3 linked regions of the Homo sapiens genome follow. The protein of the gene in region 1 interacts with the protein of each later gene in a pairwise test. Each region holds a gene or a part of one and is shown in the gene's direction. Other genes may lie near its edges.

Region 1 (3,823 bases):
CCCACAGAAACTATCAGCGTTAATTTGTAGCTTGTTTCACATAATTGGCTGAAAGTGTTAAGTATTAAAAACAGCAAAAAACTACTTTGTGTTCTTCTGAGCAATCGCCACTAAATTACGTCACTTAATGCAGATTGTACTAAAGACTTAAAATCTTATGTAATGTTTGCAAATCATTTGCTTTAGTTTCCTTTTGTTCAATAAGCAAAACGATTTTAGAAACCCATACTTTATTTTTTTTGTTCCAGCTCTGTTCAGATTAAGGTTATACTTAAAATAATCCAAACTTTAAAATAGAAATTAGATGGGGATGATTTAATGGAGAATAATTTTCAAAGTGTTTGTTTGGGTAGCTAATTCACCCTTTGCAATTACAGTACAATATTTACACATAAAAAAGTAATTTACCCACAACTTTTTGGAACATACTTAGGTACACCAAGCCACATTTTTTTGTGGTCAGTCTTGTGACTTGTTAGAAAAAGCAGCTGGCTGCCTGTGTAGAGCCAGACTTACACTTGGATTGTAGTTTAATTTTTGTCTTTTTACCTTTTTTTTTATTTTTTTGAGACAGAGTTTCACTTTTCACCCAGGCTGGAATACAGTAGTGTGACCTCGGCTCACTGCAACCTCCACCTCCTGGGTTCAAGCGATTCTCCTGCCTCAGCCTCCTGAGTAGCTGGGAGTACAGGCACCCGCCACAATGCCCAGCTAATTTTTGTATTTTTAGTAGAGACAGGGTTTCACCATGTTGGCCAGGCTGGTCTTGAACTCCCTACCTCAGGTGATCCACCTACCTCGGCCTCCCAAAGTACTGGGATTACAGGTGTGCGCCACTGTGTAATGTTTTTACATTAAAAACAAATTCCTGAATTAATGGGCATATTTGCTTAATATATCCATGGTTGCTTTGACTTCTGACTGTTGAGCTTTTCAATTATCATTTAACTTTTGGTTAAATTCACTTTTGAAGTTAGTTTTTTGGGTTTGTTTTTTGTTTTTTGTTTTTAGATGGAGTCTTGCTCTGTCACCCAAGCTGAAGTGCAGTGGTGTGATCTCGGCTCACTGCAACCTCTGCCTCCCAGGTTCAAGTGATTCTCCTGCCTCAGCCTCCCAAGTAGCTGGGATTACAGGCGCACACCACCACGCCTGGCTAATTTTTGTATTTTTAGTAGAGACAGGTTTTTGCCATGTTAGCCAGGCTGGTGTTGGACTCCTGACCTCAAATAATCCTCCTGCCTTGGCCTCCCAAAGTGCTGGGATTACAGGTGTGATCCATGGTGCCTGGCCTGTTTTTAATTATTTTTTTTATTTTTTGAGACAGTGTCTTACTCTGTTGCCCAGGCTGGAGTCCAGTGGTGCAATTATGGCTCACTGCAGACTCAACCTCCCAGGATCAAGTGATCCTCCCAACTCAGCCTCCCAAAGAACTTGGACCACAGGCGCACGCCACCATGCCCAGCTAATTTTTGTATTTTTTGTAGAGATAGGTTTTGACCATGTTGTCCAGCTAGTCTCGAATTCCTGGGCTCAAGCTATCTGCCCGCCTCAGCCTTCCAAAGTGCTGGGATTATGGGTGTGAGCCACTGCGCCCAGCCAAGTGTAGTCTTACATGTTAGTGTTTACAGAGGAACTGTACGACCTTTGTGCAGATAAATATTTCATAACAAGAGGTTCGTTATTGGTCAGGTTGCTGTTCTCATCTCCTTAGCAAGGGTGGGGATAATGGTAAAGAAAACTTGTGTGTTTGATTTTCTTTTCTCAGTATCTTCTCTCTTCTGAATTTGAATGTTTTAAGGAATTAAATCAAAGGTGGATGAGCTAAAAGCAGCCTATGACCGGGAGGAGTCTACAAACTTGGAAGACTATGAGCCTAACACTGTAGCCAGTTTGCTGAAGCAGTATTTGCGAGACCTTCCAGAGAATTTGCTTACCAAAGAGCTTATGCCCAGATTTGAAGAGGCTTGTGGGAGGACCACGGAGACTGAGAAAGTGCAGGAATTCCAGCGTTTACTCAAAGAACTGCCAGAATGTAACTATCTTCTGATTTCTTGGCTCATTGTGCACATGGACCATGTCATTGCAAAGGAACTGGAAACAAAAATGAATATACAGAACATTTCTATAGTGCTCAGCCCAACTGTGCAGGTACATGGTCTTCTCTACACATATACCCTCTGGTACTGACATTGGGGAACTGGGGTAATTTTCTATTGCTGAGTCACATGTAAAGCAGTGAACTTGAGGAGATAGGTAATGGATTAGCTTGAATACGGGTCTTTTCCTTTCATAATTTGGACAGTGTCAATGTATAAGATAACATACTTGCCCTTTAGCTTGTAGTGATGTAATTTGAATGCGGTACAGTCTTTGATGTGGGTTTATAAACAAGACCTGATGACAAGGATCCTTCATTAGGGGAGGAGGAGCCCATGGCATCTACAGTTATAGAGTTCGTGTGTAGAATTTTAGAGATCCCAGTTATTTAATCAATAGCATTATTGCTTCGTTAGATCACAGACACACATCAAACTCAGGCACAAAGGGACCTGTCATTAATTGTTTGGTCAAAGATTTAGCCTGAGGATTTCATTCATAAGGATGGATCCTAGAGAGACATGTTATAGGCTCTGAATCTGAAAAGGAACTTCAGGGAATTGGGTAGTGTGTTAATTGGTATCTTTTTACGACATACATACTTGGCTTTCCTTTATTGCTGCTCAGTTGGTGCTGTCATAGAGTATATGTTTTCTTTTAATTGCAGTTAATGATATTTTACTCAGGCCAATAAAAAGGGAGATGATAGGTTATATTTATTATCTTAAGCCCTCTTTTTGGCCAGTATTCTGAGTCACCATAAATCACTGTCACTGTTATTAGAGAGTGTTTTCATTTACTAAAGAGCGTTTCAGTCAGGCGCGGTGGCTCACACCTTTAATGCGAGCACTTTAGGAGGCTGTGGCAGGAGGATAGCGAGAGGCCAGGAGTTCAGCCTAGGCAACATAGCAAGACCCTGTCTCTACATAAAAATTAAAAATTAGCTGGGTGTGGTAGCATGTATGTGTAGTCCCAGTTACTTCGGAGGCTGAGGTAGGAGGATTGCTTGAGCCCAGCAGTGAGCTATGATCATGCCACTGTACTCCTCTCTGGGTGACAGAGCAAGATTTTATCTCTAAAAAATAAAGATTCTTCTGTTACTCATTGATTACGCTTTGAAAGCAAAATGTTTCTCAGATTTTAGTTTGATCATTAGGATTTCAGGATCTGGTAAATATTACATTGATACTTAATATTACTATAATATAATAGAGATGGTTGTATCATAGAAGAGTCAAGTGTGTTGTAAGAGTAAGTTTTAGGTAGGAAATAATTTCTTGTAGTAGCTTTTCAGCCAACCTAATGCCCTGGCCTCCTAGCATATGAACATCCATACTTAAATGCTGGCTGTGTCCAGGTATTTGTTTCTGGAGTGAGGGCTTTCAACCTCAACCCAGCTTTACTACTGTGGTGCTCCCACTTCCCTCATGGTCCTCATTCATTCCATTGCGTCTGTTAAAATATGTCAAAGTAAGTTGAAAATAAAGAATATAAGATGTTTTAGCCGGGCATGGTGGCTCACGCCTGTAATCGCAGCACTTTGGGAGGCTGAGGTGGGTAGATCATTTGAGGTCAGCAGTTCGAGCCCAGCCTGGCCAACATGGTGAAACTCCGTCTCTACTGAAAATACAAAAAAATCAGCCAGGTATGGTGGCACACGCCTGTAATCCCAGCTTACCGGGGAGGCTGAGGCAGGAAAATCGCTTGAACCCGTGAGGTGGAGGTT
Region 2 (3,823 bases), on another chromosome or scaffold:
CAGGAGTAGCTTCTGTTGCAATAATTAATAAACAAAAAAATCAGGTAACACAATACAAAAGCAAACAGTTTAGGAGCTGACATGAACTTGTGTGTTTACACTCTTGGGGATACACAAGGAAAAACAATTTTCTCCACAAAAGGGAGTCTGGTGCCTTCTCCATTTTCTTTAAGGAACCTCAGGCTATTATAAACTATTTTAGGTCCCTCATGCAGCAGAGCGTTCAAGGGAAAGGAGAGACAGCAGAACTATATGAAGAAAATAGCATTCAGTCAACTGAAAAGAAAAAAAACTTTTGCCCAAAAAACACAAGGTCCTAGGAGAGAGAAAAAAGAAAAATCATGAAGCCCTTTTAAATACACACACACACACACACACACACACACACACACACACACACACACACACACACATTGGATGTTAGCTTTTAATTAAGATGACTTTTAACCATTTGAGTTTCTTTTTAAAAAATTTTTAAGATCTCATCAACATATTTCAGCTAGGACAAATATCTGCTATTTCAGAAGTACCAAGTATCAAACCAGAAAGGTCTTGATTTAGGAACCAAACCCAGGCTGTCATGGAAAAAAGAAGACAGAACCTTAGCTATGGAACTGCAGTTGGGGTGACAATCCTTTCTCTTTCAGTTTGGCCTGGCTAGCAAAAAGGTGGCCTTGTTATGTAAATAAATCCCCTTAAGTAGTCAAAATCAAAAATCTTCCCCCCCTTTTTTCCTTTTGCTGGCTGTTTTTTCTTCCCCCACCACCCCTTTTCTGGTGGGAATTTAGCCACTTCAGAGGCCTTGTTCCACATAATTTGGAACTTTCCTTTGGATTTGATCAAGTCAGAATTGGCCAAACCCAATAGGAAAAGGACCAAAACAACAAAAACAGAAAGAAACAACAACAAAAAAAAATACCAGTTAAGCAAAACAAACAAATGATCACACAACTTGTATGGTTACTGGACACTCTAATGATAAGGAAAAATTAAGACCAGCTGGTTGTTAATTTTACCTTTAGCCAAGACAAACCCCAATTCAGTTACTTACCTAGGGATGGGTCTTAGGCTGAAGACTGCTCTCTATCATCTTAGAAGCAGGAAAAAAACCCTCAAACTTGTCTTCCCTGTTGGGAGCGAGTTCAAACTCCAGAAAGGAACTTTCATGGAAGCAGGAAAACTTGCCTTCCTTGTTGGAAGCAAGAAAAACTCCAAAAAAAGAGTAGAGTTGTTTAGAAAAATAAACTTTGGATCTGGAGCGAATTTTGGGAAATGAGGGATTCCCTGGATGGGGGACTTCCAGAACTCAGCAACTTGTCATATTAGTTTGAACCATAAAGATAGCTCAAGCTGCTAGCAAGCACTGATAGGATATTTGTCAAAGGTCAGGGGCACCTCTACTCAGAATCCCTTTGTGGTTGCCAAAATGTGAAACCCAAAAATCTGAGACAGGTCTCAGTCAATTTAGGAAGTTTATTTTACCAAAGTTAGGGATGCATGCCTGTGACACGGCCTCAGGAGGTCCTGATGACCTGTGCCCAGGGTGGCAGGGTGGTCAGAGCACAGGTTGGTTTTATGCTTTTTAGGGAGACATGAGACACAAATCAACATATGTAAGATGAACATTGGTTCGATCTGGAAAGGTGGGACAACTCAAAGCAATGATGAGACAACTTGAAGCAGGGGGGTTTGCTTCAAGGTCATAAGTAGATAAAAGACAAATGGTTGTATTCTTTTGAGTTTCCGATTAGCCTTTCCAAAGGAGGCAATCAGATATGCATTTATCTGAGTAAGAAGAAGGATGACTGAATTATTTTCAGATATTTATTTTACAAAATCAGATATGCATTTATCTCAGTGAGCAGAGGGATGACTTTGAATTGATTTATTTTCAAAGATTTATTTATAAAAAGATTTATTTTCCTTTCACAATGTTAATGCCATAAATAGTAATTTCTTAGATCTACTAATTTTAGTGTTAAAAATAGGTTCCAATAGTGATTATAAAAAATTAACATGAAATATTTTATGGGGAAATTTCAGGGTTAGTATTGGTTGTATGTAGGAAAGCTTGTTTGTATTTATATATGTTTTTAACCTAACATCTTAATGCATTTTGTTACTAATCCTTATGGTTTTGTAGAAAACTCTCTAAGAACTTCCTAGATTATGTCATCTGCCAGTTACAGTGATTTTTGACTCCTTGCTCCAGTTTTTTATACCCTCATTTTTTTTCTTGAATTATATCAGGAGCTTTGATCTTACTTTGAACAGCCTCAGCAGTGAGAGTGCACCCCTGCCCTCACCCAGAGTTTTACAAAGAGGATATCTGGTATAATTTTACCTTATAGGGAAAAGCTGACCATGGAGGAGCCCGATTCATCTAGTGTACTGTCCACCTCAGGACAAGAAGAAGGGGCACCACTCTGGCTGGAGACCTGCCCTCAGCCTGCCTCAGTCTCAGCCCAGGGGTGGCCTCTCGCCCTGCTTGATTCTGAAATGTTTGGTTTTGTCTCCACAGGGCAGGACACGTCCTCACAGAAAATTGAAGACTTGATGGAAATGGTGCAAAAGCTGCAGAAAGGTCGTGTGTCTCCTTTGTGTGAGGCACAGCCTGAGGTTTGGGGCCAGGCAGATGTGGGTTTAATTTCAGGCCCCACAATGTACGAATTTGGGAAATAATCCTCTTCACCTTCTCTTTCTTTTAAAACTTAATTACTTAAACTAAAAATAGGGCCCCATGTTTCAAAATTAAAGAAGCAAAAGGGTATAGAAGGCAAAATGTTTTCCCAAAACCCTGTCCCAAACCTCTCGCTGGTCACCCATCTGGCTCCACTGCAGTCCATTAGATCCAGAAGTTGCCGCCTTCACTTCCCTTCCTTCCCCCTCACCCGCTACTCCCTCTTTGCTCGCTAGGCTCCTGCCAGCCATGTTCCCACCTCATGATGGGTCTTTGCACTGACTACCTCCCAACCCCACCCAAATTGCTGCAGGGCCTGCCCCCCACCACTTGATTTGGGGCCCTCAGGTCCCTTCCCATATCTCAGGAGCACTTCCCACTCCTTTGCTCTTTAGCCTCCCTTGGCCTACTTCATTTCTCTTGAACACGGTTACCGCAGCCCCATTCGGTATCTTATTGTGTCTGTTCCCAGTCTTGCCCACCCAGAACGTGAGCCCCGTGAGGGCCCCACAGAGCACCTGCTTGCAGGAGGTACTCAATAGATCTGTGTTGCGTGAAAGCAGCAGAGACACAAGGCTGGCAACCGCCCCAACTCTGCCTGCCCTGTCAACTCAACCTCCTTTCCTCCGTGCAGTGGGAAGCCTAGAGCCCCGAGTTGAGGTCCTGATTAACCGGATTAATGAGGTCCAGCAAGGTGAGTTCAGGGGCCTTGGCTGCCAGCTAGGACCAGCTGCATGGTTTGCGGGGCTCAGTGCCAAGTGAGAATGCAGGGTCCCTTGTTCCAAAGTTACTGGTTATTCACAACAGCAACAGCAGAGCCTTAAATTAAGTACAGGGCATTTCAGCATGCGACTGCCATAGTTACATGCCCATGATCCTGGCCCTGCTATCAGCAGAGCCTGGCAAGGAGAGCTGGAAGCCTCGTTTCCTACTCTATAAAATCTAGGCCACTATAGATTTACCTGAAGGCAAATGAGAAATGTCACTGTTGGGAAGAGAATAGAGGCTGCACTCACACAATGTTTTTCTGCTCTTTGGTGAAGCAAAAAAGAAAGCCAATAAAGACCTAGGAGAGGCCCGGACCATCTGTGAGGCCCTGCAGAAGGAACTGGACTCGCGTAAGAGAGCCGGGGGTCACCCAGA
Region 3 (3,600 bases), on another chromosome or scaffold:
CAGGGTTGGCCGGGCGCCAGCCAGACGGAAGCCACAGACATGTGGGTCTGGCTCGCCGGGCCCCTGCCCCGCCTGCTGGCTGCCCCCCAGCCCCCCGGACTCCCTGTTTGTCCTCAGCCAGGCCAGGAAGGTGCCATCTGGCCTGCGAGCAGGGCTTTGTCCTCGGCTGAGGGGAGAAGGGGTTCAAGGGCCGTGTCTGGGCTGGGGACAGGCCCCTCCTTGTGGCGGGGCGGCTGGGGCCCTGTGCTTTGCCGTTTGACCCGGCCCACGGCGCGGGCAGCATGCGGAGGAGGGCGGCAGGCCTGGGCTGTTGGTAGTTTGACCCTGGGTGCTGTCCTCAGGTCGAGGTCTGTCCTCCAGCCCTCTTCTGACTCTGGCCACCCAAGGCTGGGTGATGATTGAAGCCCCTGGCTGTCGTCTCCCTCCTGCCCTGGAGGCCTCCCCACCAGCCTGGGAGGGGGAGTCCAGGTACCCCGGGTGCCTGAGCAGGCGAGGCCCCTGTTCTGGGCATCCAGAGACCCACTAGCTTTAGGCCTGGTGTTCATTGGGGTGCTACTTGGATGCTGGGGGGCCAGGGGCCACTCCGTCTTGTTAAGTCCATCCCAGACCCTAGGAACAGGGTGTGTCCTTCCTCGTGCTCCGTTCCTCAGATGTTTGGCCCTATGCCAGGCAGGGTAGGGGCGTGAGGCAGGATCTAGAAGCCCAGCCTGGAAATAGCCTCACGGGGCTGGGGTAGGCAGGCCAGCCTGGCAACACACCTGCCATGTCCGGGCCCCCACCCTGCTGGTGCGTCCCCCACATGCCCGTGCACAGCTGTGCCATCAACTCTGCTGCCCTGTGAGTCCCCCGCATGCCCGTTCATAGCCGTGCCATCAACTCTGCTGTCCTCTGAGCAGGTGCCGTGACGGGCACATGCCATTGATGTGTGCACGAGGCACGACAGGATGGCCAGGTCTCCCAAGGTCAGGTTGGCCCCTCGGCCACTCCCCCACTACCCCGGTTGCTGACACCGGCTGGAGACCCCAAGGCCAGGCGCTGGCTCCTCAATAGGAAGTTCCCGGCCCCACGCAGGGCGTCAGTGCCCATGTGTACCTCCCACCCTCGAGACCAGCACCCTGGAGAGGCAGGTCAGAAGTCGTGAACCCAGGAGGACCCTACAGAGAAGGGGGGCCGGGGCTCAGCCCGCGGGAAGGGAGCAGATGCTGCCTCTCATTGAAGATTCCAGGCGGCGGCGGCGGCGGCGGCTCCTCCAGTTAATCCTCGCTGACTGTCTCCTGGAGGGTGGAGAGAGGGGAGGCGCCGGCCCGGGCTGCCTGCACTGCCTCTGCGCGGGTGCCATGTGCTGCTGCCGGGTCACCGTCTGCCGCTATGAAGATGGATGGGCCCAGGAAGAGGGGCTGGCGGGTCAGGGACACAGGCACGGCCCCTGGGAGACAGATGCTTCTCCACGGTGGGGCAGGTCTCAGAGCCCCTGGGCCATCATTCCTGCTGATCTTGTGGGGAGACGGCCATGGCCTCCTTGTTTTTTGGGTGTTTGGCATTTCGTGGCTCAGGGAGGCAGAGCGGGGCTGGTGCTCTTCAGGAGCACTGCCCGCTGATCAGCAGTCGTTACCTGACATGGCCAGATGGAACGTGAGGAAGGGCCGGGTTCCCGTGGCTCTGCATCCCTGGGAAGCTCAGAGGGGCCAGCGTGGCCATGGCTCTCAGACACCCCCAGGTCAGGGTAGGCCTGGGCAGTGCTGTCCCCACATGGGGAAGATGCTGGGGCTGAGAACGGCTGCCCCAGTGACAGAGTGACGCCTGGGTTGGCAGCCATCCAGAGTCCAGAGCACAGCCCCCATCTGGGCCGCCCTGAGGCTCCCTCCGCCCCCCTCCTCCCCCCTCCTCCCCCCTCCCCCTCCTCCTCCTCCTCCCCCCTCCTCCTCCTCCTCCTCCTACCCCCTCCTCCTCCTCCTCCTCCTCCTACCCCCTCCTCCTCCTCCTACCCCCTCCTCCTCCTCCTCCCACTTAGTCACACGAATAACAGGAACAAGCAAGGCCTTTTCATGCTCTGGTTTCTCCGGGCTGGACCCTGCGTGTGTGCGGGGCAGCCTCTGCGTGGCTAGGGGTGGCACGGCCTATCCTTGAACTTGGCAGGGACCTCAGCCCGGAAGGTGGGCTTTGGGCCACTGCCTCCTCCTGCTTTGTGCCTGGAGAAGACCCCTCATCTGAGTCCTCTGGACCACCTTCCCAGCTACACCCAGGTCCACTGTGTCCAGGAGCCTGGGACAGGCGAGCTGTTGCCTTCCCTGCCCCACCGTGTGTGTGAAGGCCGGTACCCCAGCTGGCCAGTCAGGGCCCAGCTGCTGCCTGTTCTGGTGGGCTCCAGGGCCAGGGCCACCCCAGGAGGTGGTTGGGGGCAGACCAGCACCTTCGGCCCAGGGGCAGTGCCAGCTTCCTTTGCCCCTGCCCTCCACGTGGGCACCAGGGCCAGGACATCTGCGGCCAGGTGGGCAGCTGTCGGCGCAGTTGACGTCTTGGCTACATCGTGGCACTCGCTTCACGGCGTGCTGGGTGCCAACGGTGTCTGCTTCCCCGGGTGTGTGTCTGGTGTGACCTTCGGATGTCCACACCAGGAGGGGTGGAGGCAGGAGCCCCTGCCACCCTGCATCCTTCACCTGCACACATTGTGTTTCTGGGGGGTTCTAGTTCTTTTGCTGGACTGAGGAGGCCCAGGGAGGGAGACGGATCCCGAGACGCACTTCACCCCAGACCTGTCGCAGCCACATCCCCTTTCTTACGGTTCTGCTTCCCACACCACATGCACCATGTTTTGCGTAGAAAGCCTTAGGGAAAGGATGTTTCTAGAACATGAACTAAATCTAGCGCCTTCCCGTGAGTCAGGAGACCTGGCTGTGTCCTGTGGTCAGTGGCCTATACCAGGCTCCTGCCCTGACTGGACGCTCTCCTCCCGCAGGATGCCGGCTCCAGGAGCAGCAGTGGAGGTCGGGAACGCCTCATTGTGGAGCCCCCGCTCCCTCAGGAGAAGGCAGGGGGACCAGCCATCCCCTCGCACCTGCTCAGCACCCCCTACCCCTTCGGCCTCTCCCCCAGCTCAGTTGTGCAGGATTCCCGCTTCCCGCCACTCAAGTAAGTTGGTCGGCGGGGACTTCGGTGAGGTGGCCAGGTGGGGACACAGTGCTCAGGGTCTGGGTCCCCAGGCAGCCTGCGGTCTGCACAGATGAGGCTGTGCCTGCTAGATGGTTGTCGGCCGCTGAGCCCTGGGGATTGCAGCCCTGTCTGTGCCCCTTCACACTGAGGTGGCAGTGGCAGCTCGCTCCCCCCGCTGCTTAAGCCCCGTCCTCGTTCGGGGTGCCAGGAGTCTGGGTGCCGACTGAGCGCCAGGGGTGATGCAGGGAGTTTAGCCGTCCCCCCATGCAGGAGCAGGTGTGCACTCACCTGTCCCCACCTTGCCCACTATCCCCGCCTGCAGCCTCCAGCGGCCCGTGCACCACGTGGTGCCCCCCAGTACCGTGACCGAGGACTACCTGAGAAGCTTCCGGCCCTACCACACCACCGACGACCTCCGCATGTCCTCACTGCCTCCCCTCGGCCTGGACC

Evidence for each region.
Region 2: the proteins of RALBP1 (region 1) and SYCE1 interact in binary tests that used the Homo sapiens proteins (3 or more experiments, as listed by UniProt).
Region 3: the proteins of RALBP1 (region 1) and GSE1 interact in binary tests that used the Homo sapiens proteins (3 or more experiments, as listed by UniProt).

Annotation. Positions count from the first base shown.
Region 1 is NC_000018.10:9,520,362-9,524,184, forward strand, and holds part of RALBP1 (ralA-binding protein 1), read left to right. Parts: intron 1-1,798; coding exon 1,799-2,148; intron 2,149-3,823. UniProt on the Homo sapiens protein: Multifunctional protein that functions as a downstream effector of RALA and RALB. As a GTPase-activating protein/GAP can inactivate CDC42 and RAC1 by stimulating their GTPase activity.
Region 2 is NC_000010.11:133,558,852-133,562,674, reverse strand, and holds part of SYCE1 (synaptonemal complex central element protein 1), read left to right. Parts: intron 1-2,521; coding exon 2,522-2,584; intron 2,585-3,314; coding exon 3,315-3,374; intron 3,375-3,723; coding exon 3,724-3,798; intron 3,799-3,823. UniProt on the Homo sapiens protein: Major component of the transverse central element of synaptonemal complexes (SCS), formed between homologous chromosomes during meiotic prophase. Requires SYCP1 in order to be incorporated into the central element.
Region 3 is NC_000016.10:85,651,322-85,654,921, forward strand, and holds part of GSE1 (genetic suppressor element 1), read left to right. Parts: intron 1-2,956; coding exon 2,957-3,129; intron 3,130-3,472; coding exon 3,473-3,600.